Linked DNA regions of Homo sapiens. The protein of the gene in region 2 purifies or fractionates together with the protein of the main gene of each other region. This does not show direct contact. Each region holds a gene or a part of one and is shown on either strand. Other genes may lie near its edges. The genes, in order: DAZAP1 and RAD52.

Region 1 (3,814 bases), on a different chromosome or scaffold from region 2:
TTCACACGGGAACCCTCCAAACCCTCCCGCGAGCTGCGGAGGACATAAAGGCCAATCCGCGCTGGTTTAAAGAGTCAGCTGAAAGCCAGAGCAGAACACTCCACAAGCCCGCTAAGTCCAAAGACACTGGGCTCTGCTGAGACACTTTCTCACTTTTCTAGAGAGACCCAAGGAGACAGGGATTGAGCATTTCTGCAGAGCTACATTTCAGCTAAACGGACCCACGACACAGTGCGTGCCTTGCCTCAGCTATTCCGAATTACAACCACTGCCACGTGGAAAAGTGCTCCAGTGTGAAGGCAGGGACTTTAGGACGGCAGGGGAAAGGCAGCAGCGACGACGAAATGAGCAGAGAGGAAGCTGGATTTCAGGCTGTACATCTCCAGCAGGTGACAATGATGGCTACGGAAACCTCCAGCAGCTCAAGAGCTGTGTGAAACACTGGCCCAAACCACACAGCCCCTTCTGCCGGCCTCCCACTGGCAAGGGCGCCTGCTCCTGGGCACCACTTCCCGGGGCCTCGGCGCTCACTGGGTGGCCAGAGCCAGGAGTCTCTGGTCCAGCTCCCGGGCTGCCCTTAGGGCTGGGGCTGCTCTCCTCCTGCCCCCACCCACCAACCATCCTTTTTTTTTTTTTTCCCTATCCAAGGCTATCACATTTTAAGTTGTTCCAACTGCTTTGAATAAAAGACTATAAACCTTTGAGGGTGAGTGCTCGCCGCCGTGACGGTCGGGATGGTTTCATGAGTGTGCGCGTGGGGTGAGTGCTCGCCGCCGTGACGTTCGGGGTGGTTTCATGAGTGTGCGCGTGGGGTGAGTGCTCGCCGCCGTGACGTTCGGGGTGGTTTCATGAGTGTGCGCGTGGGGTGAGTGCTCGCCGCCGTGACGTTCGGGGTGGTTTCATGAGTGTGCGCGTGGGGTGAGTGCTCGCCGCCGTGACGTTCGGGGTGGTTTCATGAGTGTGCGCGTGGGGTGAGTGCTCGCCGCCGTGACGTTCGGGATGGTTTCATGAGTGTGCGCGTGGGGTGAGTGCTCGCTGCCGTGACTGTAGGGATGGTTTCATGAGTGTGCGCGTGGGGTGAGTGCTCGCCGCCGTGACTGTAGGGATGGTTTCATGAGTGTGCGCGTGGGGTGAGTGCTCGCCGCCGTGACTGTAGGGATGGTTTCATGAGTGTGCGCGTGGGGTGAGTGCTCGCTGCCGTTGACGATCGGGATGGTTTCATGAGTGTGTGCGTGGGGTGAGTGCTCGCTGCCGTGACGGTCGGGATGGTTTCACGAGTGTGTGCGTGGGGTGAGTGCTCGCTGCCGTGACGGTTGGGATGGTTTCATGAGTGTGTGCGTGGGGTGAGTGCTCGCTGCCGTGACGGTCGGGATGGTTTCATGAGTGTTTGTATGGGTCAGAATCATCAAGTGGTGCAGTTTACTACGTGCCCATTATATCTTAAGAAAAGCTAGAGAGACATTAATAACCAGATGGAATATGAACCTTGGATTCCAGTCTGAAAAAAACCAGCTATGAGAGACACTTGTGAAACAATTCTGGAGCTGGGAACACGGCCTGGACACAGATGACACGGGATTCCCTGCAGCCGCTTTCCAGCGTGCTGACGGTGGGTGCATGCGAGGGGTGGCCGTCATTTTAGGAGACGCACCCTCCGGTCCTTAGGAATGGTGTATGTGGACAGAGATGGATGTAAATACATATAGACCCCACCCTGCTGCCCACACTGTGGAGAGGCTGGCACCCGGTGCCTCAGCAGGCCTCCAGGTCTGCACTGTCCAGCACGTTCTATGGGGCTAAGAGCTTTCCCATCTGCACCGCCCCACCAGGCTCCTGGTGCCGGTGTGAGAACTGCAGGGCTGGAGGAAGGTGAGGTGTGGGTGGTGGTGAGACCCAAATGCCAAGGAGACCCCATGCCAGGACAGTGCCCTGTCGGCCAGGCAAGCACCAGGGCGCAGGTCAGAGAACCCAAGTTGCCACGTCAGGGGATCTCAAGTGGAGCAGTAAAGTGGCCAGCACGAGCTGACACAGCCCGGCCCAGCCCCGGCAGTGGAAGGATGGCCCACCTCTGAGGAGGGCCAGGCAGTGGGAGGGGGCAGGCCCGGCACAGAGGGCACACAGGGCACAGAGGGAAGCTGACTGGCTCCTGATAATCAGTGGCATGAGCTGTCATTTTTTTTTTCCCTAAGATAGATTAGTAAGAATTTTCTTGGCTGTAAAACACTCACGGCACTGATAAATCTGGGTGATCCTCAGCTGCTCGAGTGCCAACCCAGAAGACCTGCGTCGCCCTCAATCTTAACGAGCGACAACAGCAGATTGAAGGCACGCATTTCCTTTCCACGTGGAGTGGAGAACACACAAGGAGGCCGCCCGGCCCAGCCCCTTACCCATCCTTCCTTCGGCCGTGTTCTCTCCGGCTGCATCCCCCGGGGTGTGCATGGCTTGGGGTCGATCTGCAGGAAATTTCAAATCAGCTGGTTGTGAATAAGAGGCTGTTTCTCTAGGAAAGAGGGTGTCAGCACAACAGCAGCCACGGCACAGCAGCCCGGCCCGCCCCGCCCCGCCGGCTCCATTCACCCTGTATCCTCCTGCAATATCCAGCCTCAGCACCAAGGCTTAATCCTTCCCAATCGACCCCACGTTCAAACATACTCTAACGCAAACATCGGTCAGAGTCCAGGAAAAAATGAAGCAGAGGAAGGACAGGGGAGACAGAGAGCGGGTGTGAGCTCCCGGAAGGGCACTTACGTTTCGGCCATCTAGCGTGTGCGGTCTGCTGGCCAGCACCGTCCCCACACAGTTTGGGTCTTTAAATTTGACAAACCCAAAGCCTCGAGACTGGTTGGTGGTTTTATCTTTCATGATAACACAATCTACGACTTCTCCATATTGGGAAAAGTAGCTGCGCAGAGTCTCTGCTCAGAAATCGGGAAGAAAACACAAACACACAGGGCCAGAGCATTAGGCACGTGCCTGGCAGTGCTGCCGGCACGCACACTCCTCCAGTCCACCAGCCACGCACCGAGCGATGCTGCACTGGGGGTGGGGGGTGTACGGGAAGCGCTGGGGAATTCTGCCCAACACACACTTGAGGTCCTCACGTAAATCAGGGGCTGCCAGTGAGCACAGCAGTGGCCAGCGGTTACAACCTGACTTTGTAGGCGTCCAGGAAGGCAACGTTTAAGGCAAGGCAAACAAGACAACTCTGAATGCTGGCAGTGGCCAAGGAGCGCCGACTTTGCTACACACTCTTTCCTCCTATTCTGAACTCAGTAACAGCCTGGCCAGCCCCCAGCCCTCTGCACTTCCAGACAACAGCTGTCTGCCTCCACAAGCCACCTCAGCCCGGAGCTAGGAACCTGCAGCCTGAGGTCTTCCCTGTAACTTGGGATGGAAATACCAAATTAACAGTCTCAGAGCAAATACACACTTACTCTGTCCCCTGCCCAGAAATCAGAACAACGTCAAAAGGACTTTAAAATATCCAAGACAGTAGCAAGAGGCGGGCAGACACAACTTGAAGGCCGAGGTCCTAGAGCCCATCTGCAGTACCCACCTGACACCCCTTCCCCACCTACCTTGGGTCGTGCTCCAGTCAAGACCGCCCACGAAGAGCTTCCTGCGATTCAATGAGAAAACATTCAGGATCAAGACAGCGCTCGCCTTAGAAATGCCCCCATCCAAGCCAAGCTGAGGTCTTAATTCAAACCACAGAAGCAGCTGACGCAAACGTCCTTGTGCACGTGACGGCATACAAAGCTCACAGCAATGGCGAGTCAGCCTCGCCCATGCTGTCTGCAGACATGAAAGA
Region 2 (3,814 bases):
CATTCCCCATTGATGTCTGGTAAGCATCTAGCATGTTCCTGCACTGTGTTAGTTTCTGAGAATACTGCAGTGAGGACAAGACACAAGTCCCTGCCCTCACAGAGAAGATGAGTATGAAAAGATTACGGCGCCATTCACAAAACCCACCAGCCACCTCCTGACATGGAGAACAAACTGCAGAGAGTTTTTCTTTTTTTTCCCCCCAAAGGCTGCTCCAATTTCCCAGCAGGAGTAGGCAACACACACTTGGGGACCGGGGGCTCAAGGGCACAACCTCCCATGACCAGAGTTCTTAACTTGGGATCTACGGACTCCCCCACAGAACTCATAGGTTTTTCTGGTTCAATTCACTTCAATTCTCAAAGACACGGATATGGTTTGGATGTTTATCCCCTCCAAATTTCATGTTGAAACGTGACCTCCAATGCCGGGGGGTGCGGCCTGGTGGGAGGTACTGGATCCTGGGGCTGGATTCCTCATAAACAGCTTAGTGCCATCCCCTTGGTGTTGAGTGAGTTCTCACTCAGCTCATGAGAGATCTGGTGGTTTTGAGTGTGGGGGCTGGGCATGATGGCTCATGCCTGTGATCCCGGCACTTTGGGAGGCACAAGGCAGGAGGATGACTTGAGCCCAGGAGTTTGAGACCAGCCTAGGCAACAAAGGGAGACCCTGTCTCTCCAAAAAAAAAAAAATTTTTTTTTAATTAACTGGGGGTGGTGTTATGTGCCTGTGATCCCAGCTACTCGGGAGGCTGAGGCGGGAAGATCACTTCAGCCCAGGAGTTCAAGGCTGCACTGAGCGATGACGGCACCACTGCACCCCAGCCTGTGCAACAGAGCAAGACCCTGTCTCAAAAAATGAAAAACAACAATAAAATAAATAAATAAGCCTGGGACTCCTTCCTTCTCTCTCTTGCTCCCTCTCTCTCCACGTTCCCTCTTCACCTTCTGCCATGATTAGAAGCTTCCTGAGGCCTCAGCAGAAGTGGATGCTGGCACCAGGCTTCCAGTACAGTCCACAGAATCATAAGCCAATCAAACCTCCTTTATTTATAAATTACCCAGCCTCTGGTATTCCTGTATAGCAACATAAATGGACTAACACGGACATCTGCGTGACTGTGTAACTACGTTAACTATGCTACCTGTGCGTAGCGGAGGACTGCTGAGGAGCACGGAGAGGAGGGTGCTGTCTGTGCACTCGCAGTAGGAGTGGGAAGGCCTCCGGCACACATGACTGAGTGCACGGAGAAGAGAGAGTACAGGATTCTACCACTTACTCCCAGCAAGGGAAGCCTGAAACAGAAACATTGAAAAAATACTAACGAAAGTGGGAAAACGGCAGACAGGAACCAGGGCAGGGGTGAGAATTACCTTCCACGCTGCTTGGATTTTTGAACCATGTGGATGTGTTACCTCTTCCAAAAAAAATCGAAATCTGCTCTGAAGCAAGAGCTGAAATGACGCAGGTTAGACTCCCAGCCCCGCGCTCACCTGAGGGCTCGCTTCAGCCCGTCTGTCACCGCCTCCTTCCTTGCCTTCTCCAAAGATAAAGCCTTGGACTTGAGGCCCTCACTAACACCATAACCAACATCTTCATGATATGAACCATCCTGGGGGCAGAAAAGGAGTTTGAACTCAAACACGAGAGCGGCAGGCGTGCCACAACTCCCCTGTTCCTCAAGCAGCAGGGTTCAAAGCCGGACTCTCCCACCTGGCGGCCTTGCTACAGGGGCACGGGCAGAAGGCTGGGTGAGAATCCATCGCGAGTGCTGCTTCCTAGACCTGGGCTGCCTGGACATGTGCCTGCGGTCAAGGTGTCAAGACGATCCTCCCTTCCCAACTTCCCAACACACAAAGGGCACATTAGAAACTCACCCCAAATCCTATCAGTGTGCATCACCCTAAGGTAAAAAAAACCTCTGGGATGGCCGGGCCGGGCGTGGTGGCTCACGCTGTAATCCCAGCCCTTTGGGAGGTCAAGGGAGGTGGATCACTTGAGGTCAGGAGTTCAAGACCAGCCTGGTCAACATGGTGAAACCCTATCTCTACTAAAAATACAAAAATTAGCCGGGTGTGGTGGTGGGCACCTGTAATCCCAGCTACTCAGGAGACTGAGGCAGGAGAATCACTTGAACCTGGGAGGCAGAGGTTGCAGTGAGCCGAGATTGCACCACTGCACTCCAGCCTGGGTGATAGAGTGAGACTACGTCTTGGAAAAAAAAAAACCTCTGGGATATGAAACAAAGGGATGATTTGAACACTGGATCTAATGGTCTGTAAGGACGGGAGAGCAAACCCTTTGTAAATCAGGTGGCGTCCAGCTCCTGCCTCTCACCAAAAGAGAAGGTGGACCTGAGCACATCATTCGCTGATTGAGAATTAAATACAATGTTTGATGACAGCGCTCTGTGATTTTTAAAAAATAACTCAGAAAGCACTCAAATAAATGAGTGACACTATAACACAATTCTTTCCATTCTCAGCTACTCACTCATAGATACAAGATTTTTTAGTACTATTTAGAAAAATAAGTCAGAATAGAATTAATGCTGAATTGTTCATTCAAGAAATAAGTAGGCCGGGTGCGGTGGCTCACGCCTGTAATCCCAGCACTTTTGGAGGCCAAGGCGGGTGGATCACCTGAGGTTGTGAGTTCCAGACCAGCCTGACCAACATGGAGAAACCGCGTCTCTACTGAAAACACACACAAAAAATTAGGCGGGCGGGGTGGCGCATGCCTGTAATCCCAGCTACTTGGGAGGCTGAGGCAGGAGAATCGCTTGAACCCAGGAGGTGGAGGTTGCGGTGAGCTGAGATTGAACCATTGCCCTCCAGCCTGGGCAACAAGAGCAAAACTCCATCTCAAAAAAAAAAAAGAAGTAAGTAATATTCAGTTATGGATATATGGATATATAAACTAACTGAAAAGAAAAAACAGCACCATCCATCTCATTAAGATATACATTTTCCATAAATTTTATATTTTAAATTTTTTATTTTTGTGGCAAGATTTCATATCTTTAATTTTTCTAAGTATCAAAATTTTGCTGTATTTATGTTTTCTCTTCACCATAAACACAATTGTCTGGTCAATTGTGTGTTAACAGTAGCTATAATATAACTAAATCCAAAAGAAATATTTTAATATTTAGAGCCTTAAGTGCACTGAAAATTTACCAAAAATTTTTATTTTTATACACAGGCAAAGGCAGAGAAGCACAGTAAGGCTACCGATAAAACTTTTCTTTTTTTCCACCCAGGAGTTCAGTGGCGCAATCACAGCTCACCACAGCCTCGACTTCCTGGGCTCAGGTGATCCTCCCACCTCAGCCTCTTGAGTAGCTAGGACTACAAGCATACACCACCATGCCCAGCTAATTTTTTGTATTTTTAGTAGAGACGGGCTTTCGCTATGTTGCCCAGGCTGGTCTCAAATCCCTGGGCTCAAGCAGTCCTTCCACCTGGGCCTCCCAAAGTGCTGGGGTTACACGAATGAGCCACCCCGCCTAGCCAAACTTTCAACCATAAATATGTATTAGGATTAAAACCAGTGGGGAAATAGAATAGAAATATGAGTTCAGATAAAGAAAGAACAATGTAAAATTTCTAATGATTAAAAAAAAGCTTGTTCATTGTATTTCTTCAAATAAATGATAGATCTTATCCTCTATAGTATTTAGAGTCCACTGGAATATTTAACAAGATTCAACAGATTTACGGTAAGTGCTCACTTAACACCTTAAATAACTGTGACTTGAAGTGAAACAACTTATTAACAAAACATATTTTTGTTTTCATCAATGTTATAACAA

Evidence for each region.
Region 1: the proteins of RAD52 (region 2) and DAZAP1 purify together in Homo sapiens (affinity purification with mass spectrometry; one study listed by BioGRID and IntAct). This does not show direct contact.

Annotation. Positions count from the first base shown.
Region 1 is NC_000019.10:1,417,308-1,421,121, reverse strand, and holds part of DAZAP1 (DAZ-associated protein 1), read right to left. Parts: intron 3,623-3,814; coding exon 3,582-3,622; intron 2,919-3,581; coding exon 2,752-2,918; intron 2,457-2,751; coding exon 2,391-2,456; intron 1-2,390. UniProt on the Homo sapiens protein: RNA-binding protein, which may be required during spermatogenesis.
Region 2 is NC_000012.12:925,652-929,465, forward strand, and holds part of RAD52 (DNA repair protein RAD52 homolog), read right to left. Parts: intron 1,613-3,814; coding exon 1,494-1,612; intron 1,296-1,493; coding exon of another isoform or gene 1,145-1,295; intron 1-1,144. UniProt on the Homo sapiens protein: Involved in double-stranded break repair. Plays a central role in genetic recombination and DNA repair by promoting the annealing of complementary single-stranded DNA and by stimulation of the RAD51 recombinase.